3 separate regions of the Homo sapiens genome follow, and regions 2 and 3 are each linked to region 1. Evidence: fine-mapped expression QTL. A gene starts in region 1. Each other region holds a variant in brackets. All regions are shown on one strand. Distances are from middle to middle.

Evidence for each region. PIP is the estimated chance that this variant, and not a neighbour inherited with it, causes the effect. A credible set is the group of variants that fine-mapping cannot tell apart.
Region 2: its variant is the best candidate, but not a certain one, in a credible set for the expression of HEXB in whole blood (TOPMed, PIP 0.79).
Region 3: its variant is the best candidate, but not a certain one, in a credible set for the expression of HEXB in whole blood (TOPMed, PIP 0.52).

What each region holds. Positions count from the first base shown.
Region 1 is chr5:74,680,260-74,688,443 of GRCh38, reverse strand. HEXB (hexosaminidase subunit beta) reads right to left here and starts at 3,211. Exons shown (of 14, transcript NM_000521.4): 1 at 2,885-3,211. The coding sequence starts at 3,183. RefSeq lists enhancers at 2,234-2,323, 2,334-2,383, 2,444-2,493, 2,999-3,499 and a silencer at 3,184-3,523.
Region 2 is chr5:74,777,031-74,785,214 of GRCh38, reverse strand. NSA2 (NSA2 ribosome biogenesis factor) reads right to left here. Exons shown (of 6, transcript NM_014886.6): 6 at 5,102-8,184. FAM169A (family with sequence similarity 169 member A) reads left to right here. Exons shown (of 13, transcript NM_001376049.1): 12 at 2,081-2,284; 13 at 3,207-7,641. The coding sequence ends at 3,755. It also overlaps the pseudogene RNU6-1330P. Among named protein-coding and RNA genes, the nearest start is that of NSA2, 14 kb to the right of the region's middle. The variant G/A (reference allele first, on the strand shown) is at 3,273.
Region 3 is chr5:74,627,107-74,635,290 of GRCh38, reverse strand. ENC1 (ectodermal-neural cortex 1) reads left to right here. Exons shown (of 3, transcript NM_003633.4): 2 at 1-607; 3 at 5,299-7,882. The coding sequence ends at 575. Among named protein-coding and RNA genes, the nearest start is that of ENC1, 9.5 kb to the left of the region's middle. RefSeq lists an enhancer at 3,569-4,382. The variant TG/G (reference allele first, on the strand shown) is at 4,242.

The DNA of each region.
Region 1 (8,184 bases):
AGAACTGCTTGGACCCGGGAGGTGGAGGTTGCAGCAGTGAGCCAAGATCGCACCACTGCACTCCAGCCTGGGTGACAGAACGAGACTCCATCTCAAAAAAAAAAAAAGTACCTTTTGTTGGTATCCAAAAATCAGAGAATATTAAATAAAAATTCTGTAAAGGCATTAAATATTGTAAAGGCATTAAATATTAATATTAATATTAAATACAAAAAAAGTACCTTTTGTTGGTATCCAAAAATCAGAGAATATTAAATAAAAATTCTGTAAAGGCATTAAATATTGTAAAGGCATTAAATGTTAAATACATAAAAATTCTGTAAAGGCATTAAATAAAAATTATGTAAAGGCATTAAATAAAAAAGATCAGACAGGCTTCAGAGCAATTGTTTTTGGTATCCAAAAATCAGAATATTAAATAAAAATGTAAAGGCACTAAATAAAAAAGATCAGATAGGCTTCAGGGCAACTGTTTAAATAATATTTTACAGATTTTGGTAAGCCAGAAGGTTATATATGCTACTTATGTGTAAGAACGTCTTATGCTTTTTTGCAGAAGAGGTCGGAAAATTCTGACATGTTTGGAAGTGTATGGAAGTTAACCAATGAGAGAATGGAATGGATGTAGGTGTTGAGGGCCCTTCTCATAGGAAAACCCTGACAGATTAAAAAGGAAATTAAGACCACCGAAATACATACTTACAAAAGGTTAAGATGGTAAATTTTATGTTATGTGTATTTTTTCCTTAATTAAAATTTTTTTAAAAAAGAAATTAAAGCTGCTGGCAGCTTTGAGATCAGAGTTGGAAGCTGGCTTAGAACCTTGACCCTAGGTAGTAAAATTCTAACAGAAAACTCAAAGGGCTGTGAGGCAGTATGTCAAAGGTATGTGGGTTAGTTTAGCCTTCCAGGAAATGAAGGAGTGAAGCTATTTGTTTATTTTTAAAAATGAGTGACTAGCATGTGATGAACGCTGTTCTAGAAGCTAAAGAAGCAGCTATGCATCTAACAGCCAAACTCTCTGCCTGCAAAAAGCATACTGTTTCAAAGCAAGGTTTGTGATACAACCTGGGCTCTTCAGAGACAGGGGCTATGTGATGCTGAACAATCTGGGGCCTAGACTGTGTGTTCCTGACCACGTCGCACTTTGTGAACACTCCCATATTTCCAAATCTTTCCAACTCCACTGTGCTTTTACTCTGAGATACCTGCTGCTCCTTCTGAGTTCCTAGAATGCTCACATGCATGCCTTCAAGTCTTAGCCATAAGGGCCAACACATTTTATGACCTGCTTCCTAATAATACCAGGCATAATTAATGGCTGCTTCACTCAGAGGCCATGAGTTAGGCAAACTCTTCAGGTAATCACCCGCACATGCCTTGAAATACCAAGCCTTGCCTTCGAACCATCTCAGCTGATTTAAGTCCTGGTTATCTACCTATTGTTAACTTACATCACCCATGCTTTCTTGTCACAGTCAGTTCAGCATATTACCAAGTCCTTGTTTTACTTAGCAGTATGACACAGAAGGAAAATCCAATTCTACAAGCTGAACTCCAAGGCAAACATAATAAGCGTGTTTGTTTTTAAAAAGATTTCCAACCCTAGTCATGATCTTCTGAGACAACCTTCATGTACTTTCCATGCAATCTTTCTGAATATCCCAATGCAACCAAACACTTTGGTTCTACATCTTAACCCCACTCTGGCCTTAGCAGATTGGATACCAAAGGCTCATTAGTGTGTGTGTCTAAAATAGAGACTGATAATACCCATTTAGTTGTACAAAACAGAAGGAAACCATGAGCCTTCTGATTGTAGAGAATGAACCATTTCTGCCATCAGCATCTTGGGCCTCTGCAGCTTGAGCCTAGGCACCTGTCCTATCTGGGGTCAGAACACATTATTCAGTTAGTTTGACATTCCCTCCCCACCTGTTCAGGGTCCTGCAAGCACACTTAAGCTCTATAGTATCCACTGGGTACAGCGACAGGCTTGGGGAATGCCAGGAGGCAGTACAGTTAGCACCAAATTACAATTCTGCAGGGCACGATACGCCTTCAGGACAGTCCCACCTACACAGGTCTCACACTGAGGGGACAGTGTGTGGCGTCTTCAAACATCTCCCCAGGGGAACCTGCCTTGTCTATGGTGTGATTGGCTGACTCCCATGACAAAACTCACCCTGTCTGCAGCCAAAGGGTGAGAGAGACAGAGGCGCTATCTAGGGGTCTGTAAAAGAGGAAGCAGGGAGAGCAGGCAACATGATCGGTGTTGAGAAACAAAGTTGGATACTGCCTAACCACTGACCGCAGAAACGTAGTCAGATGCAAACATGTCACATTTTATATGGAAGAGATTTTAGGAGAGAGGGCAGTTTTAGGCAGTGCTCGAAACTGAGGACTTCTGCCATTTGAGCTGTTACCAGGAGATGTGAGGAGAGGTGAGGGGGCGAAACTGGCCTATAAATGACAGTCAGCTTTGGGGGATTCCTGGTCCCTCAAGAGAGCTTGTCTAAGCCCTTCGGGTAACTTATCCCTTTGCACGTCCTTCAAATAAGGAGCTGTCACTTTCCTCCCCAGCTCCGGTGTCCCCTCCGTCCATGCCATTTGCCCAACAAGGCCTCAGAGCAAACTCCCTCTTCCACTTACTATCCGGCTCTCAAACCAGGGTTCCTGAGCACCCAAGGTGTCCCTTAAGAAGCAGTAGGAGGGTGGGGGCAAGAGCGTGGGTTCAGTCCATGTGGCGCTGGGCAGATCGCCTGCCAGCTCCCAGGCGGTTTCTCGTCTGCGCAGTGGGGTGGTGAGGGTCTGCACAGCGCTCCGGGGTGGTCCGCCTCTCCCCTCCCCCAGGACAACTCCCGGCCGGGCCGGGAGCGCTCACCGTCGAAACGCTTCCTCCAGCAGGGTGCAGGAGGGGCCCGCCGTGGAATTGGGGCTGTGGCTGATGTAGAAGTTCTCCGGGGCGAGATGCAGCAGGTTCGGGGTCATCTTCACCAAGAGCGGCAGGGGCCACAGCGCCGGCCCCGGCTTGGCCGAGACGCTCGGGGCCCGAGCCGCCTCCGCCACCTGCACCACCAGCGCCACCTGAGTCAGCAGCGCCAACATCGCCGCCAGCAGTGTCGCCAACAGCAGCGCCAGCAGCATGGGCGGCCGGGGCAGCCCCAGCCCGCACAGCTCCATGGCCGCTCGGCTGCTTTCCGCCCGGTCTGCCGAGCCGGAGCCTCGGGACCCGACTTCCCGCCCGGCCCGGATCAGAGGAAGCGCGGCCGCGGGTGAGTCACCGAGTCAGATGACTGCGCGCGCCCGCCCCCGACTCCGCCTCCAGGCCCCGGGAGCGTCCTCGCCCAGCCCGCCCTGTCCAGGTCACCTCGAGAATTTCCTCCAGGGGTGCCCTCGGGTAGGAGCAGAGCCCAGACAGCAACCTCAAACACGGGATGGCTAAAGTAAGAAAAATGCCCGGTGCTGGCCGTACGTGGTGGCTCACGCCTGTAGCCCCAGCACTTTGGGAGGCCGAGGCGGGCGGATCACCTGAGGTCAGGAGTTCAAGACCAGCCTGGCCAAATTGGTGAAACCCCGACTCTACAAAAATACAAAAATTAGCCGAGCATGATGGCGGGTGCCTGTAGTCCCAGCTACTCGGGAGGCTGAGGCAGGAGAATCTCTTGAACCCGGGAGGCGGAGGTTGCAGTGAGCCGAGATCGCACCACTGCACTCCAGCCTGGGTAACAGAGCAAGACTCCGTCTCAAAAAAAAAAAAAAAAAAAAAGAAAAGAAAAAGAAAACGGCCCAGTGCACAGGCTCGGGACGCCAGGCCGACACCGGGTCGCCGCTCACGCTGTCAACACGGGCGCTCTCCTGTGGATCCCTGGCTTCGGTGAAGCTGGAGAAGCCAAGCTTGAGGAGCACCTTTCTCCTCTCAGCCCAACCACCAGATAACCGAGATGAGAGCTGAGTTTATTTGCTCCTAAGTCTAGGCTTTTCTGTAACAGCACTTCAGCTGTGGTCAATAAAGCCTTCCTATCAGAACTCCCTGGGGCAGAGCATGCCCAAGGAATCCTGAGAGAGAACATCTTGGCTCATCTGTGTGGGTCCCGATATAAAGGATCCCAACTGACAAGTTTGATTTCATAACCCATCCCTAAGGAAGAGCCAGTGAAGTCACATGACGAACACGGACTGGAGATGCCAAAGGGAGAAGAGGTGTTCTCTTACCAGAAGGAGAAAACGCTAGGCAGACCAAAACCACAGATCTGCTATATAAGTATTCTGAAAATGAGGGTGGAAGAGCTTTAAGGAAAGACTTCAAAGAAATGTAATGATTAGGCCAGGTGCGGCGGCTCACGCCTGAAATCCCAGCACTTTGGAAGGCGAAGGAGGGCGGATCACAAGTTCAGGAGTTCGAGACCAGCCTGGCCACCAAAGTGAAACCCCGTCTCTATTAAAAATACAAAAATTAGTTGGGCGTGGTGGCGGGCGCCTGTAATCCCAGCTACTCAGGAGCCTGAGGCAGGAGAATCGCTTGAAACCGGAAGGTGGAAGTTTTAGTGAGCTGAGATCACACCTCTGCACTCCAGCCTGGGCAACAAGAACAAGACTCCATCTTAAAAAAAAAAAAAAAAGAAAGAAAAGAAATGTAATGATTATTGGGCCTCAGAAAATGAGACCCCAAAGTGTGGCACTTTGGCATGTTGAATACTTGGAACTGAAGAAAAGAGAGTCAGAAGATCTTTCTGACCTTCTCCTGCCTTTCTTTCTCCTGCTCCCCTTTCTTCCCCAGAGCAAGCCATAGAAACTAGAATTCCTCTTTTTCAAAATGGGTCACAGAAACTAGAGCCACTGTTGGGCATGGTGGCTCACGCCTGTAATCCCAGCACTTTGGGAGGCCAAGGCAGGTGGATCACTTAAGGCCAGGAGTTCGAGACCAGCCTGGCCAACATGGTGAAACCTCATCTCTACTAAAAATACAAAAATTAGCTGGATGTGCTGGCACACGCCCGTAATCCCAGCTACTTGGGTGGCTGAGGCACAAGAATCACTTGAACCTGGGAGGCAGAGGTTGCAGTGAGCCGAGATTGCACCACTGCACTCCAGCCTGTGCCACAGAGTAAGACTCTGTCTCAGAAAGAAAAAAAAAAAAAGAAGAAACTAGAGCCCCTATGCCCCCAAAGCCAGTCATAAAATCTAGAAATATTACTCTAATCTTGCCGTGTCTTTCTGTAGGAGCCAGCCATAAAGAGGTTCTCTGACCTACCTTGTCTGATAGTGGCTCTCAAGACTTTTGTTCCAGAGTGGCCCTGCACCGTATCCTGGAGGAAGGAATACCACACAGAGAGGCCAAGAAGAATTTGAACAGACACATCTTGCCAGGTTTCTCCTCTCTATTACCATTAGGTTGATCATATCCTTTTTGCCCAATCGCATTTCTGCCTGGCTGTCTGCTCTGCATCAAACCTAAACATCAAAATAGGCAGCTTTTCCTGGGTCTTTGAGCCTTCATTCTGAAGGCTCCCATGTCATGTAAAACTGATTAAATAAATCTGTTATGCTTTCCTTGTGTTAATCTGCTCTTTTGTTATAAGAGTGTCAGCCATGACTCATGATGGATGAGGAAAGGTATCACATCTTTCCACCCCTACATGGTGCATGTTTAAAATTCTTCCATAAAAGAAAACTTCAGTGGCACACTATTCTCCCCTATTCTTATAATTAAGACAAATATAATTTGCAATATCCATCTTTACTGCCACTTTTTACTGTCAATGGAAGCACGGCATAATGTTTCCAAGATTCAATCATCAATTTATGTTGTTGCAATTACTATATACTTAATTACAACTTCACATTGCATACTAGCTATCTATTGCTGTGTCACAAATTACTCCAAGATTTAGGAGCTTAAAACAACAACAGATAAATAATAAGATAAATATCTCACAGTTCTTGTGGTTCAGGAATTTAGGAGTCTTAGCTGGGTGATTCTGGATTAGATTATCTCATGAAGTTGCAGTTGTCTGAAGGTTTTTTTCTTTAGGCTTGGCTAGTGCTGGAGGATCTTCTTTTTTTTGTTTTGTTTTGTTTTTTTTGAGACGGAGTCTCGCTCTATCGCCCAGGCTGGGGCGCAGTGGAGCCATCTCGGCTCACTGCAAGCTCCGCCTCCCGGGTTCACGCCATTCTCCTGCCTCAGCCTCCGGCGTAGCTGGGACTACAGGCGCCCGCCACCACGCCCGGCTAATTTTTTGTATTTTTAGTAGAGATGGGGTTTCACCGTGTTAGCCAGGATGGTCTCGATCTCCTGATCTCATGATCTGCCCGTCTCGGCCTCCCAAAGTGCTGGGATTGCAGGCGTGAGCCACCGCACCCAGCCCCGGAGGATCTACTTCTAAGTTAACTTGCATGGCTGTTGGCAACAGATCTCAGTTTCTTGCTGGCAACTGGCTGAAAGCCTGAGTTACTTGCCATACCCACAATATAGCAGCTGGCTTCTCCCAACCAAATGATCTGAGAAAGACAGCAAAGAGGAAGCCACAATGCCTTTATATAGCGTAATCTTGTAAGTGACATGCATCACTGCTACCACATTATATTCCTTAGAAGTAAGTCACCGAAGAGTTTAAGAGTGGATCTCAGATGCAAGGAAATTGAAGGCTAGAAGACTAGGAAGAGATAAATTATCGGTGGGAATGACTGTGGGCATTTAGGAATTAGGGTGATGGAGGGTGGTTTCAGGAAGATTTGGAGTTACATTCACCAAGCCCTGAGATCTTGTGAAACTATCAGATCTCTTTTTTATTGCACCCCGTTATTAACTCTGACTCATTATTTAAAAGGGTGCTATAACACGGGAACAATATTAACATACTCATGGTTGGGTTAGATTTTATTTTTTAGAAATGGGGTCTCACTATGTTACTCAGGGTGGACTTGGGCTTGGGCTCAAGCAATCATGTCTCAGCCTCCTGAATAGTTAGTACTACAGGCCTATACCAATACACCCAGCTTGGGTTATATTTTAAATCAGGGTTTCTCAACCTCAGCACTAGTGACATTTTTGGCTAGATGGTTTTTTGTTCTGGGGAGCTGTCCTGTGCATTACGTGATGTTTAGTAGCAACTGGGCTCTACTCACTGGTCGTCAGTAGCACCACCCCCAACCCCTGAGCCTCAGTGGTAAAAAACATAAATGTCTCCAGATATTGCCAAATATCACCTTGTTGAGCTCCATTAGTCTAAGTAATAATCACTACAACTTATTCACCAACAACAAGGTGCCAGACATATTATTATCATCCTCTTATTTTATCCCCAAACAACTTAAGAGGTAGGTTTTATTGTCCCCATTTTAGAGGACTATGTTGAGGCTCCAGGGCCCCGAAGAACTAAATGGTTTGCTCACGATACCACAGCTAATTAAAGCTAACGCATGGAATTGAAACAACATGGAGCTGAAACAAAGTTTCCCCAGATGACTGAAATATGAAAAAGTGGACCACTATGGATTTACAGCAAATGTGTTTCCACTGAATTCATTTGTATGGTATCTGGTTTCCCTGAGGACCTTTCTAAACATGTAACACCATTGCTTAAAATGCATCACTGGATTTTTACTTTCTATAGGGTAAAATCAGACCTTTAATTAAAGACCATCAACCTACTAGTCTAATCAGAATCTGAATCAAGTTTCTCCACCTGGGTGCACTGTGTGCTAAATATCCCCAAAATGGAATCCTAACATGTGTACCTGCTGTTATTTTTCCCTTGCTTTTATTTTTCCCACATTCAAGGGGAGGGGAATTAGCTTCCACCTTTTGAAGGGAGGAGTATACTTTCTGACCACAAATTATTTCTATTTCTTCCATGCAAAACACATTCCCTTTCTCCCAAGAACCCCAAAAATCTCATCCCTTTAGAAAAGCAGCTTGAAATCCAGAATGTTAGCATATAAATTACATCCAGGTGTGGGTGAGATTCCTAGGATGCAGTTCCTTAAAGTTCTTCAAGTACAGTTCCTCTTAGTGTGAAGACCTGTGAACTAAATGCAAGTTATCTGCCTCCCACTCCTCCCCGACACAAAAATACAGTGGTGGACAGGTGTAAAATAACCACTGTAAACATTCCTGTTCAAAAAGGGAAAAATGAGAGGCAACAACGAGTCTGTAGCAATTCCAAAATCCAGCCAGGCAAA
Region 2 (8,184 bases), 97 kb before region 1:
CCCGAGTACCTGGGATTACAGGCGCCTGCCACCATGCCCAGCTAATTTTTGTATTTTTAGTAGAGATGGGGTTTCACCATCTTGGCCAGGCTGGTCTTGAACTCCTGACCTTGTGATCCACCTGCCTTGGCTTCCAAAGTGCTGGGATTATAGGCGTGAGCCACGGTGCCTGGCCTTTTTTTCACTTTTAAAAAGTTAAGATTATATTGTACATACTTCATGTAACCTGTTTCATCAATAAGACATATACCAGTGACAGTGACAACTATCATTTTCATTTTTTTTTTTTTTTTTTTGAGACGGAGTCTTGCTCTGTTGCTCAGGCTGGAGTGCAGTGGCGCGATCTTGGCTCACTGCAAACTCCGCCTCCCGGGTTCACGCCATTCTTCTGCCTCAGCCTCCCGAGTAGCTGGGACTACAGGCGCCTGCCACCACGCCCGGCTAATTTTTTGTATTTTTTAGTAGAGACGGAGTTTCACCATGTTAGCCAGGATGGTCTCGATCTCCTGACCTTGTGATCCGCCCGCCTCGGCCTCCCAAAGTGCTGGGATTACAGGTGTGAGCCACCGTGGCCCAGCCTATTTTTTTTTTTTTTTTTTTTTTTTTTAGCCTGGGTTGATTACCCTCTCTTCCTGAAGTTCTCTAGTCTCCTCACTTTATAATACTATTGCACTTTGGTTTCTTGTTTTTTTTTTTTTTTTTTTGAGACGGAGTCTTGCTCTGTCTCCCTTGGCTGGACTGCAGTGGCATGATCTCTCTGGCTCACTGCTACCTCTGCATCCTGGGTTCAAGCTATTCTGCCTCAGCCTCCCAAGTAGCTGGGACTACAGGCGAGTGCCGCCATGCCTGGCTAATTTTTATATTTTTAGTAGAGAGCGGGTTTCACCATATTGGCCATGCTGGTTTCTTGTTTTTTCTGTCTCTGAAGTATTATTTTTATTTTTTGACTCTTCTCCTACTTGCCTTTTCCCCCTTATTGTGGACACTCTAGAAAAAGTCCTTGATTTTCTGAACTTTGGTTCATTTTATCTTTTTTGAAAATACATCCGATCTCATGACTTCAACTGTTTTATCTATGGGAATGACCAGTAACTCTAGATTATATGTCTCTCGACTCTGGTCATTTTTATGAGCTTTATATTACCTTCTGTGTGAACTCTATTCTGTGTATCATATGATATAATAAAATAGATATTTTATAGACAATTTTTATTTTAGAACAATTTAATAAATTTTTTACTATAGAAAAATTAAAAACCGTGATTTCTCTTTTGGAAAAATTTCCTTGATATGCTTTTAGGGGTCCTACACAGTCAAATCTATTTGTGAACACTTGAATGCATCAGTTTTATAATTTTAATAATGGTAATAAAATTCCCCTTAATTATTAGAATGTCAGGATTAGAAATACTTGATATTAAATAGAAGTAAATGGATAAACATTGGGAGAATTTTAGAAATTGGAGAGTTCATGTTATCAAATAGCATTTCCATACTTTAATGATATGCAAGGAGCAGGACTGTTCAGAAATGACCCTGGTGTTGACTGAGACTAGGGCTCTCTCCTCCCAGCAAGATGCAGCACCCAAACTGAACTTCCCATAAGACTGGTAGTGCTTCCTACCTCTGGCACAGAAAACTGTAATTTCCCATAGATTCCAGATGCTGAACAGCTGGTGTTATGTAAAGAGCTAGCATCAAGTCTATACTCTGTCTGGTGCCTTTTTCCTGAAAAAGTTCTTTCCCTGATTGCCCTCTAAGAAGGAGGAACAACAAGTGGGTAGGGTCTTTTCATTGAATCTCCGACCCATACTGTGTGTCCACAGAGCATCCTGGTCCTGCCCCATCTTTCCTTAAGAGCAGTGGGAGTACGGGGTACTCAGGATTATTTTATTTTGCTGATATTGCCTTATGAGTTTCCTCCTTCCCCCAGTAAGACTGTTCTTTAACCCATGTCCTATAATGTAAATTTGAGTCTTGGTGTAGGATAGGTAGGCACTGAGAAGGGACCCGTCATGCATGACAAATAAGTTAGTTTGTAATCATGTCCTTACTTTTTCCCTCTCTCCTCATGGTGTAGGAATCTGAATTAGAGCCTATGAATGGTGAGATAATGGACGATTCTCTTAAGACCTCACTTATAACAGAAGAGGAAGACTCCACTAGTGAAGTTTTAGATGAAGAATTAAAATTGCAGCCTTTTAATTCCAGTGAAGACTCTACAAATCTTGTTCCACTGGTGGTAGAATCTTCAAAACCCCCTGAGGTAGATGCACCAGATAAGGTAAGGGGGCAATGAGCTATTTTTTAATAAAGTTTACCAATGTTGGTGACATTAGCGAGGAGGGTGCATGGTATATATATTTGCTTCCACCTTTACATGTACAGTGCTTTAGGAAGATTAACTTTTATACTAGATTTGATATTATAAGAAAATCAGTAATATTCTATAAATTCAAATAATAACCTTATTCATATCTGATATGTGGTAACAAAATGAGTTTTATTACTTTTAATACTTTGTAGTTAGGAAATGCTTAGAAAATTGGATAAAGCATTATTTACCAAATATTTGAGTACCTATATTTGTTACATAGACTATGACCAAAACAGTAATTTATATTTGTTTTAATTAGGCAGACAGATTAGGTTAGTGGGGGAAAAAACTTGTTGGAGTATTTTAAAAGAAATTTAATTTTGTTACTTTTGAATATTACAACTTATGGCTAAAAAACTGTTGTATGGCATTATTAGTGTCTCACCTAAGCAAAAGAATAAAACTTCCATTGCCCTAACTTATCTAATGAAATCGTAGTCAAACGTAGTGTGGTAGCGCAGTGAAGTCCCAAGGTATTTTTGGTTCTGGCTCCAGTAACACCAGGAAACTAAAAAAACTGAGTTGATTCATGGTTTTAAAGAATCTTGATATGAAGCTTAATGTGTCTTAATTATGAAATAATTATTTCATTATATCCTCAAAGTAATAACTTAGTATTAAAATTACCATGTGAAACAATTTTGAAGAAATTGAGTTGTATTCAGAATATATACACATATAGCAGAACAGAAATTCAAAAAAATACTCGATTTTGAGTAATGAATACCGAATTAAATTCTAGTTCAGTGTCACTGCATATTAGAGCCTGAGAATTTATTTTTAGAACTGTAGTACAAGTTTATTTGTTGACCAGGTTTTTAATTTTCAGACCCCACGTATACCTGACTCAGAAATGTTGATGGATGAAGGCACATCTGATGAAAAGGGGCACATG[G/A]AAGAGAAATTGTCCCTACTTCCAAGAAAGAAAGCACATCTTGGGAGTTCAGACAATGTTGCTACTATGTCAAATGAAGAACGATCTGATGGTGGTTTTCCAAACTCTGTGATAGCTGAATTTTCCGAAGAACCGGTCTCTGAGAATTTGTCTCCTAATACTACTTCCTCATTGGAAGACCAGGGTGAGGAGGGGGTATCTGAGCCCCAGGAAACATCTACTGCTCTTCCTCAGAGTTCTTTGATAGAGGTTGAACTTGAAGACGTGCCATTTTCACAGAATGCAGGACAGAAGAATCAGTCAGAGGAGCAGTCTGAAGCATCTTCCGAGCAACTGGATCAGTTTACACAATCGGCAGAAAAAGCTGTGGATAGCAGCTCAGAGGAAATAGAAGTGGAAGTGCCTGTGGTAGACAGGCGGAATTTAAGAAGAAAGGCCAAAGGGCATAAAGGACCTGCTAAGAAGAAAGCTAAGCTGACCTGAAGGAAGAAGAAAGTGGATGATAAATCCTCTTCTTTGTAACATAGTTGTTGTTTTTAAAATATGGTAATTAATAAACAGCATGGGGCACAGGACAAAAATTTCCAAAATTTCAATTTGAACTTACTTACTATGCAGTTTTTTGCTTCCCTTTAGAACGTAGAATTCACCATTGTTTTTAATTTTCCAGGCTATTTTTGGTAAATGCAATTTTTTATTTTTATTAACCATGTTTCAATTTTGGGAAACCAGATCATATTATATTTTCTTTATCAGGTGGTACATCTGACCATTATTTCAAAAATATAATTAAAAAGCTGTGAAAGTAGTAGGATTTCCATTACTTATAAGGATCACAGAAATCTTTTATACTAAGGGTTTTAATAGTAAAACTTGGTGAGGGTTCTAGAAGTTTTAAATTTCAAAACTAATCACCAATTTTTTAAAATGTAGGCATGCCTAAACAAAAATAAGTGTCAATAAATTAGAAAAAATATAACTTCAAGTAAATGAGAGCACAAAAACAGAAACTTACGGTCAAAGGTTCATGAAGATATTTTGGTTTTGGCCTCTTAATCCTAGATATAGATGCAGTTTTTTCCTTTGACTTCACTATCTATGGAAAGGTACACATAAAATCTGTTTCTGATTCATTCTATCATCTGATGTTAACAGTACTGTCAGGGATTTAACTGTGGCATGTGGGGACTAATTATTTAAAATTTCATTTGAAGTATTAGTTTGCTGTAATTTTTTTTGTCTGCATATGTGCAGACGCCTAGAAGTTTAGACTTTCACCTTTAATCAGGTAAAAATCACAACTATACTTTGGAGACATGGTTTAATTTGGACTTCTGGTCCTGATCAGATAGATAAATTAAGCTGGAGATTTTACTTTTATCCCAACCCAGTTAACATCTATATTTCAGAAGTATGAGGCTCCTTCCTAAGGCATCTCCTTAAATCTTGCCACCTCCCTAATTCTACAGTCTTATTTATATTCCCCCACAGCTTTCATCTACTTCTGTAACTCATGGAGTGATTCTCCAATCAACAGATCTTCCTGCCTGCCGGCTTATGCCCTTGATGTCCATTTTTGGGTAGGTTTGGAGGTGCACCCCACAATGTTAGACCTATATGGCAGGAGTAAAACTGCCCCCAGTGTTAGACCTATATGGCAGGGGTAAACTGCCTTTGGGGGAGCTGTGGTTACAAGGGCTTCAATCATATTGGAGGCTTCAATCATCCTTTGATTTGTACTGAGTACTGGTTGCAAGCTGGCCTGTTAAGTATATATTGTGTTGCCATAACAAAGGCCTAGGAAAATTTGAAGAAAAAAAACACTGAACTGTTATTTTTTGTAATTTATTTAAAAATGGACAAAATGGTTATTAGAATCCAAAGATAATCTAAAAACAGTTCTACTCTTTGGAAATATTATGTGTACTCAAATTTGCACTTAAGTTGGAGAATGTTTTGAGACCATTTAAATTGTTTTAAAAATAGCTTGATCTTGATCCTTATGCAAAAGAAACTAAGACTTTGTGTCATTATTTGAGGTAGCTAAGGACTGATGTTGAAAGTGTATTCAGTCTATAGTAAGCTGATGTCAGGTCAGTAAATTTTGTTTGGGGATGTTGGTATTTTCGATCAAGTTAAAATCTTAAAGCAGACAAAAATAGTAAACGCTCCTATTTGTGTTAGATTTTGAACAATTGTATTACCCTATATTTTCTTTAATTAGTCAAAGGTAAGCCAGATTATTTCATTCTAAATGAAAATTAAAGCACTTTGGCCATTTATTTTTTCAACAAATGCTAATACTAAGTAAAAAAAAAAAAGTATGACTACTATTAGTGAATCTACCAAACATTTATGCTGTTTTATACATTTTATGAGAAACTTCTGTCAATATCACAAAGGGAAATACTCTGTTAAGATTCAGTAAATTCTTAATCTTTACATGTTTCATTTCTTAGATTTGAAAACACTTGTAGATATTTTATTTTTACTTGGATTTGTTTAAAATACTTTCTTTTCAAATTATTTTAAACATGGAAACGCTTCATGAATTTGTGTCATCCTTGCACAGGGGCCATGCTAATTTTCCCTGTATTGTTCTAATTTTAGTATATGTGCTGCCGAAGTGAGCACTAAAAGACTTTCTTTAGACAAGTGTAGTTTTTTAAAGATTGAGCTCACTGGCTCAACTCTTGATGTGTGAATATAGTTGAGTTTACAAAAAATGTTTATTAATCATATATGACCATTGGGGGCTAACAGTATAAACTTATTCTTGTTAAACTTGTTTGGGTTAAATAGTAAGTGAATTGTAAACAATTTAGAAGTTTTTTGTTCAGCACACAAGAACACTTCTGTTACAGATTCTCTCTGACAGAAATTGTTATTTTGGGGTTTATAGATTATAGAGGGAAAAGTTAGATCACTTGGAAAAACCTAACTCTCATGTTCAGTAACTTGAGTATAGAATTTATACCACAATTTATCTTCAATAAGGAACCTACATGAACTTAATCAGTTATCTGTAGTTTTTGCAAGGCATTAGAAAAAATTTCACAATTACAGAGGACTGAAAATGTGATTTCAACCGGCTAGTCTAGTTGTTGAATGTCCAGTCACATTACACATAGTCCTTTGTGAACTTATTTGTGAAGGGAGTTCACTTTTTATGTACATACGTGTATATTTCCTTGTGTAATATAAAGCAGATGGTTATTAGTATTTTAGTTCTTTCAAGTTTAAATTATTCAATTGCTAGACATCACAGAAATTAGTATATTTAAGAATTTATTATAAAGCTCCTCTACAACTTTTAAAGGTGAGAGGGTCTATTATGATTTTTTTATAAAATCAAACAGCATGATTTAGAACGTCAGTCTTCTACTTAAAATGTGTCTATATTCATGGTATTTCCATTCAGTGTAGATGGTAAGGAAAACATCTAGTCATTAAAGATTTACTTATAGCAGACTCCAGAACACTACCTACAATGGGGTTTCAGTGACTAGAAATCTTGAAGGTTTATGATTGCATCAAATTGAGCCTGTACTAATATCTAAATATCTGCTCTTATGTTCTGCTTTATCCCTTGGGATTACCTTCTAAGGTTTGGTCACACCAGCAAACTGAAACAGATCTTAATGTACATAAAAAATTTATACTAATATTACTCATCTGTGTTACAGTATTTTGAAAAATGTTTCAGGTGTCATCTAGTCGTCTTTCATGGGTGTGATTAGTTACAAATGTTATGCTTATGTTTTCATACTTAATATCAAGCTTTCTTTGTACCTTACAAGATAGTATTTTTGGTTCTAAAAAAAACAAGCAAACTTCATTTTTGTAGTATCCAGAAATTACCTGGAGTCAGTATTTTTATTCGCCTTCTAGAACTTGTGATCCACACATCACCCATTTATATTAGTGGTAAAATTATCTGCTAAAATCTAATTGTAAGAAAGGCTTACCTTCTGTCATCAAGTGATTGTATCATCCTGGATCGTCATTTCCAAGGAACTAGCCTTTCTTTTCCTAAGCGTCTGTATGTGTTCTAAAACTTCCAGTATATATTTATAGAACTTAGAAAAAATGTTACATTATTCAGAGTAGCAAGTCTTACTGGAGTACCTATGTTTGTTTTCTTGGTTTTTATTTTTTTTTAAGTTTAAAAGTAGTAATTAAACCTATATTTTGTGATTGTTTCCTGGTCTGTGTTTTTAAATTCCTTTCCTTCAGTTTTCCTCATGAAGATGTTTCAGATACTGAATTTGTTTAGACATTGAATGACTTTGTTAAAGGCACAATTAATCACATTGGTTGTACTCTGAAGACAGACTTCTTTAAAAAAAAAATAAACAATTTAAAACAATGTGGTGATTATAGATTAATGTAATATACGCCATCCTTAAAACCACAACATATAACAGATCACAAAAGTGCTTTCACCAAGTTACAACCGTAAATCCTTACCTTTTTACATCATCTAAGTAACTGCAAATAAATTTCTCCTCAGGGAATCAGTGCAGTCTTCTTTTTCCTTTTAAAACTTAGCTGGAGTTACTTAAACTAATTCTTAATACTATTCTGAAAGTATAAATATATTGTTTAGAATACAGAAAATGCTAAGAGAGTACAAAGACTTTAGTATATTTTTTTCATTTTCATGATTCAAGTAGAAAATAGTGCCAAGTAGGTATTATTATACATGGTAAATGAGATGAAAAAAATGTTTAGAATGTGAATTCACTAGACCTTTGCTGTACTGGATTTCACAGGTGAAAAGATTTCTCTAAGATTTCTGAACTTTTAGTGTCTTCTCACATACTTCTAGTGTAAACAAACACTATAAACTTAACATCTGTATTAATGCTACCTACCTTTTTTAGGATTAATGATTAACGAGATTTTGAAG
Region 3 (8,184 bases), 53 kb after region 1:
CAACTGGCTGCCTCCCGGCCTCCCCCTCAGTCTCTCTAAAGCAGGTAGAACATTATGACCCCACAATCAACAAATGGACCATGGTGGCCCCACTCCGAGAAGGCGTTAGCAACGCCGCAGTAGTGAGTGCCAAACTTAAGTTATTTGCTTTCGGAGGTACCAGTGTCAGTCATGACAAGCTCCCCAAAGTTCAGTGTTACGATCAGTGTGAAAACAGGTGGACTGTACCGGCCACCTGTCCCCAGCCCTGGCGTTACACAGCAGCAGCTGTGCTGGGGAACCAGATTTTTATTATGGGGGGTGATACAGAATTCTCTGCCTGCTCTGCTTATAAATTCAACAGTGAGACTTACCAGTGGACCAAGGTGGGAGATGTGACAGCAAAGCGCATGAGCTGCCATGCTGTGGCCTCTGGAAACAAACTCTACGTGGTTGGAGGATACTTTGGCATTCAGCGATGCAAGACTTTGGACTGCTACGATCCAACATTAGACGTGTGGAACAGCATCACCACTGTCCCGTACTCGCTGATTCCTACTGCATTTGTCAGCACCTGGAAACATCTGCCTTCTTAAATGCAGTACATTCTAAAGAGAGTGAGCATGAGGTAAGAAGTTTAGCTATAGATGTAAGTATGCATATAATTAGGCTATTGTGTAAGTTCAGTACATGGGGTGAGATCTGATCCACAGAGACTGTACTGCAGAAGTACTACCAAAGCTGTAAAAATAAGAGAGCTGGTGCCCCTAGAACTTATCCACTTGTGTTGACCACAGCCTCAGCCCCCACCATGGCATTAGCCAGTGGTTCTCAGCTTTTACTGAGCCTCAGAATCTCCTGAAGAGCTTTTTATTTATTTTATTATTATTATTATTATTTGAGACAGAGTCTCGCTCTGTCACCCAGGCTAGAGTGCAGTGGCATGATCTTGGCTCACTGCAAGCTCCGCCTCCTGGGTTCACACCATTCTCCTGCCTCAGCCTCCCGAATAGCTGGGATACAGGCGCCCACCACCAGGCCTAGCTAATTTTTTGTATTTTTAGTAGAGACGGGGTTTCACCATGTTGGCCAGGATGGTCTTGATCTCCTGACCTCATGATCCGCCCGCCTCGGCCTCACAAAGTGCTGGGATTACAGGCATAAGCCACCGCACCCGGCCCTGAAGAGCTTTTTTAAAAACTGCCCATCCCAGAGACTTAGTTTCATTTGGTCTGGGGTGGGGTCCAAGCATCAGTATTTTTAAAAAGTTTCCGGATGATTCCAATGAACAACCAAGTTGAGAACCCCTGACCTCTGTTAAGTATGCCAGCTAATGTTTATTGAGCCCTCACTGTGTGCTTGCAGCGGTGCCACGTGTTTCCCACGGATCATCTCATTCTATCCTCACAACAACCCCGTGGGGAATTATTACTAGCTTCATTTTATAGATGAAAAAACCTTCATGCATTACGGAGGCTAAGCTGCCCGAGTTAGCAGAGCTTAGTAAGAGGTGGAGCTGGTTAGGAAGTCAATGCAGGGGGTCTGGCTCTAGGGCATCAGCACTGGAGCATCGTGTTGCACTGCCACCGAATAAACTTGAGCTTCACATCCATGACACCAATGTCATCCCAGGTGATACTTCATTTATATTCAAATTTTGCTTCCTCAAACCCTTTGTAGAATGATTAGGGTTTAAAAATGTATTGCTCAAATTCATTCCTAGTTTATTCTCTCCAAAATTATTAGCTTATTTTAAATGTTTTACTTAAAAAGTAGCCCCCTTTAAGGCGTTTATTACCTTTAAAGATAAATCTATATCTGTCTTTGTAAAAGGTTGCATGTACATAGCAGAAATTTGTGCAGATAACACAGAGCCACCTAAACTTCCCAAACTATGGCCTTTCAGAGTTAATCAGTCAGGCCGACCCTATTGTCAAGGCTAACAAAAGTTGTGTTTCTGAGTCATATATCTGAGTACATAATAGTTGTCTGTGTATTTAAGAGTATAGAATACTCTTGGCTCAAATAATTAATAGGCCTACACAGTTCAGAGTTCGCAAAGCTCACGGCTGCTTTGCTGCTAAGCATTCTTAGGATTGGCCCCAGGAATCGCTTAGGCATGTGTAAGTATAGCCCAGCGCACACAGGATGTGTTGACTTGTTTTGGTGATTCATGGGCTTATTACTAATAATAAGAGAAGAAAGTAACTGCTTTGGAGGAACTACAATGAAAACAAACTCATTTACTTGGGAACTTTTGGCTCTGTTTTCCCTAGTATGTTTCACACCTTTGAAGGGGACTTCAAAGGGAGAAAAGGAGATCTAGGCCTAGTGGCAAGCTAAGCACAGAGGGGTTTCATCTCATTGGTCTTTTCTTTCCCTGTCCCTTACAGCTCATTTAGAAACATCATTAAACTTGGCCTCACTCTCACATTTCAGCTTGCCATTTTATTTTCTTTTTGAGACAGAGTCTTATTCTATTTCCCAGGCTGGGGTGCAATGGTGCTATCTCAGCTCGCTGCAACCTCCGCCTCCTGGGTTCAAGGGATTCTCCTGCCTCAGCCTTCCAAGTAGCTGGGATTACAGTGCCCGCCACCACGTCGGGCTTTTTTGTATTTTTAGTAGAGATGGGGTTTCACCATGTTGGTAAAGCTGGTCTTGAACTCCTGACCTCAAGTGATCCACCCATCTCAGCCTCCCAAAGTGCTGGGATTACAGGCGTGAGCCACCGCACTTGGCCTCCAGCTTGCTATTTTTTTTACTTCTTCAGTTATCTCTTCCAGCCTTCGTACAGTTATCAGAGTTCTGAGTTATGTCATGCTTTCCTGGAATGAAACTCCTTCAAAGCAGCAGGAACAATCAGACACCTCCTCTGGGGAGCAACTGGGCTAATAGTGTCTCACACCAAACTGGTTTTTTGTAGCCTTGCTGGCATCTCAGTAATCTTGAATAAACAAATGCTCTGAAAGTGGTTATTTCATTTGAGATATGAATGCATGACTCACCTCTAAAGCAGGTTTAAAGAACCTCCTAGGCGAAAGCATCAATTAACAGCACACTTAGTTGGGTGTTAGTCCAGAACTGACTATATTTGCACAGAAGAGCCATAAAAATTGCTACCAGGGTGGTGGTACATAAAAAATGACAATGGGCAGGCTGGCTGGAATCCTTGGAACAAGGTAAGGAAATTGAGGCAGAAAGAGGAGAGAAGCCACATGTGTATTCTGGCCCTAGTTTTAAGTTCTAGACCTTCCTGAGTTTTAGGTTGCTTCTCTGTCAAATGAGTGGTTTGATCTTTAATCTCCTGTGATCTGTCCCAACTCAGACTTGGGTCAATTGATAGGGGAGTTAAAAGAGGCGAAAATACCTAGCCCAGTGCTTGACGTGTAGTAACTTACTGTGAGATAATGGCAGTGGAATTAGCTTTCTGTGTGGTAGGAAAATGAGGTTTCTTTGACTATTATCTGCTTGTTATCTTTAGACTTCACTTTTGGTTCCTCCTTTTTCAGCCCAGAGTGAACATGTTGGCAAACACTTGACTTCACCCTACCCTGGGTGTTTGAACTGAATCATACCCTTCCGGTCGCTGGGAAACAGAGCAAGTAAAGTGTTAAGTTATATGTGAAATAACATCCTCTTCACCCTTGGCGCTACCAGTGAGAGAGTCAAGCACATGAAAACTAAATTTGACAGGGCCAAGTTTGCTGCTTTTAAAGGGCAGCGTAAGCGCCTGATCAAAGCCACTCTTTGAATTTCCGACAGGGAGAATGTTGGTTAAAATTTCTAAAGTTTACTACACAAGATAGTGCTAAAACATTTAAGAGGGGGTTGGAGTGCCTTAAAGTGCTGGGTAGGTGGGTCTCAGTCCCAAACTGCAAATTCCTCTGCCCTCCAAATGTAGGTGCTAACGGAATTAATAGAGTGTTTAACAGAAAGTTTCCCTAGGTCTTAAAGCTCATCCACCTAGGAGGTTTTATCTGCCTCCTGCTGCTCTGCCAGTGGGTGGGAAGGGCAGAAAGGAAATTACTTTGATTATCCTCTGTTTTCATGGTGCCGTGTGGCCTCAACCTAACTTAGGCTTTGATTTGCTTTGTTTCTTCTCTAGATTTTGTTGTTGTTGTTGTTGTTGTGTGTCCTTTTTTTTTTTATTATCGTTCCTGTTTGAATATGCAATTTTTTGGGGGGAGGGTGTGTGTATTCCTTTTTTCCTGTTTGAATATGCATTGTCTTGAAATTTTATATTATTATAAGATACATTCTTT[TG/G]GCCTAATGTTGACATATAGGTTACAAGGAGGTGGAGGTGGGGCAATGACACCGTAGTCTAAGGCATGCCTTGAAAGCTTGAATCACTGTTAGGAAACAGCCAAAAGAAACAACTCATGAAATGAATCAGGCTTCTGAACACACAAAAGCAAAGAATTCAGTGCAAGGTCATGAGTGGCTCCTCCAGAATTCCCTTTGTCTGTACTTAGACTTACAGCAATAGGGATACAAAAGCCCTCTGCACAATTTCCCCAGATGAAATGAGAAATAAATAAATGGGAAGAGTAAGCAGTGTGAGGAAATGCAAGCTCTATGAAATGTGCAGGCTTTGTGGTTACGGCACTTTGAATTGATATTCACACTTGATGTACGTAGATTCTGTAGCACTGGCATGCCGTAGCTGCTGGCACCTACGTGTGGACTGACGAACTTTGAGAATAAACTCCAAACTTGGGCTGTTGAGGCCTGATACATTGTCATGTGAAAGGAAGCGAGACTGATTTCTGCCATAATGGATAACAGAGATGCATTTAAATAAGAGGATTAGTATGTCTGCCTCCTAGATGGTAAAGTTAATTTGGAATCTTTCATGGTACATGGGCCAAGGAGGGTTTGCACAGGAATCTCCCTTCTTTTCACCCCTTAGTGATCACTTTACAGTCGCTCTGTTTAACCACAGAAAGAAATTTTATGAATGTTGGAAGCAGAAGATGGCAACTCCTAATAGCATCTAGACATATAGGTTTGGATTTGAAAGTGTGTATGCTTAGGAAAGAAGTGAAGGTCCTTCTTTAGACACCACTGTTTTTGTCAGGCCAGCCATCTGCATGGATGTGTACGTGCACACGTGTGTGCATTTAAGGCAAGTACTTTAAATATCTTTGCACAGTTCCTACTGAACATGTAAGACCTTTGGAAGCAATATTGTCCAGCTCCATACCAAGTTTAATTTAAAAAAAAATTTTGTGGCTAATAAGAAAAATTTAAAAACTATGGCATCACACAAATCCTTCATGCTTTTTTGTTTTGTTTTTTTTCCTTTTCCTTCTATTTCAGCTCACTCCATCACTCGATGAGATAATATGAGATTTCTACTTCGGAGAGGCCAAGTCTAATGAAGAGAAAAAAAGGAAAAGAAGTTGCAAGACTCGAATAAAATCTGCTGCACCTTGTAAATGCTCTAACTGGACATGAAGGAAAGGGGCGAGGGAGGGGGGTGGGATTTTTGGTGCAAGTAGCACATGGTTTAAATATGAATGAACAAACCTGTGATCTAGTCCTTGTCTTGTAATTGTGGATTAATGTCAATGTTAATCAGCCCCTCAAAGGGAGAGAAAAGCTGGACCTTTTCCCTTGCTGTACCATATTCAGCATTTGATTTCCATGGGCCCCACCATTTATGTGTAGAATTTGAAATGGTTGTCACCTCTCTCTGAGGACAGAGCTTGAAGCCTCCACACCAGCTGCTGCTGGAGATTCAAAGCCCAACTGTGGGTCCGAGAGGGAAGCTGGCTGGGCTGGCTGAAGAATGAAGACCACTGGACTCTCCGTTAATCTCTAAGGGGTCTGCTCCCCAGGAACGTTTCTGAACAATGGGGACTTTGTTGGTAGCCATTTGGTAGATGTTCTTTTCTATTTATAAGTGACTTTAAACTTTCCCTTGGCTGTTAAGAAGTTTGTTATAGATTTAGCTATTTATTGTTCGATGCCTGCATGCTGAAACAATGCCTACAGCTGTCTTCACATGTATGGACGTGTGTGAATGGTTGTACGTTTTGCACATTTTGTGGCTGTTGAGATGTGCTTTGCTGCACAAACATGAAAATTTTTGAGTTACAATTTGGAGCATAACTGGAGGGTGGGTTGGGGAGGGGTGGATTTTTAAAATGTCAAGACAGGGAAGGATGACAAAATGGAAATTTAAATGACATCCTAGAGGTAGAGAAACCGTGGAGATCGCTTTTCTCAGACTCACCAACTTTTAATGGGATTTCATGGGGTTTGGTTGTGCTGATAGGGTAAGGGGAGGCTGCTTTCTGCCCTTCTCCCCACTCCCATCTGATTTACTTAATTCAGTCTCAGCTGCTGAAATTTGGAAAGGACCAAATTGCTTTACAGTTTTTTTCTTTGTGTAGTATCTTGAAATCCTGGAAAATTCTATGGAATAGTTCTGTATATAGGGCACAAGTAAAGGCATTGTCCAAAGTTTATTTATTTATTTATTACCCTAAGAATGCTTTGCCATAACCACATTTAATGGGAAAAACGGCAGTATCACAGATGTAAATTAACTCACCAGATTTACTGGGCCTGAACTCATTCTCTTCTTGCTATATGATTTAGCAAGTTCTAGAAGGTCTCCAAGACAATAATTACATTGGCACAATGTATACTTCAGTGCTCACCCGTAGGCAAATCTCTTTTTAAAAAACTCTTTGGTGCACAAGTAACACATTTGGCCACAAAACACCAAAGAATTGTAGGCAGTGGCCCCTATTGAGAAGTTTTCCGGTAGAGTTGGAAATCAGTTGTGAATACATTCTTTGCTAGTTGGAGTGCTTGTTTACTAAGCATGTGCCGTCGTAGGTATTAGTGCTAGTCTCAGATAGGTGCTTCCCCTGAGGTGCAGGGGAAGACCAAAGTTTGCAACTCGAACTGCTTTCGTCCATGTTTCTCACATTGCTGTATTTTAGAAAATAGGGGTTAAGACTGATAACAACCTTTTACATTGTGACTGTGTTTGCATTGTCTAATGACAGATAAATCCTTAACATTTCTCTCCACCTTAGTACTTTAGACTAATTGTGTTTGTCCGTCCATGCCATGAATGAGTGGGCTGTAGTTGGGCCTAAATAAATGAGCTGTTGGAAGAAAAGAATCACAGTACTTTCCAGCAGTCAGTCCCTGGTTCCTAGATGTGTTCTAAGCAATGCAAATGTCTAATTGTCCCCCAGTGGGCATAGTCAGTGTCGTTTATATTGTAGCAGTTACAGCTCTGTAGTTTATGATGCAAATCTGCCAAGAGAGATGTATGTGTCACTGCATGGCTTCTGAAAGCAGGATGAATTTTCTGCAGCTGTTTCAAAGTTGGGGTCTGTTCTTGAATCCTCTATTAATTACTGTGTGTGAGCCAGAGGGAGCTGTGGTAAGGGTTGGGCCCCCAGCCTGTAGGGAACTTTCTGGACTCCCACTCTTTGAATCGATATAGGCATTTGGTCTCACTACTTGACCATTCTCACCCTGTGAAACGTCCCACACTTTGAAGCAAATACAATTCACAGCACAGTACACACAAAAACCTTGGCATAAGACAGAGAAGGTTCTTCTTATTTTGTGGGCTGGTTGCTGTAGAAACACATAACAAAGGGCAGCCCTCCACTTCTGGTATAATTGTGTAGCCCCTTTTCTTTGGGCTTGACACCTGTCTTGAATAAGAGTGATTAGAGCTGCATAATGTCCCTCTCTTGGCTATTGACCATGTGGTTCACGTACAAAACTCTGTATAAGTTGAAGGAAAATGTTCATGTTCATATGTACTTGTTTGCTATGACTACATTTTGAGGTTTTGTAAAACTGTTATTTTTTTTTTTTTCACAATGTGAAACTGAAGGTCAATAAATTATTAGAGATTTTCTCTTCATTATGTGTGTGGGTCTTCATTTGAATAAGACACAATTTGAGGCATTGTAAACGTGTGCCTTTTCTCGTTTATCCAAAGAAGGATCATTTCAGATATTCCGAACGTGTTTTATTTCACCATTTAGTGATATTTACAAAGGTAATTTTGCATATTAAATAAAACTTCCTGACCATTAGAGTATCTCTTTAAGCAAGACAAAATTCCTCATTTATGGGTTATTCATAGCTGGGAATATAACAAGTCACACACCATGCGATATTAAGACAGCATACTTTATATTGGAATGAATTTAGTTTTTTGAA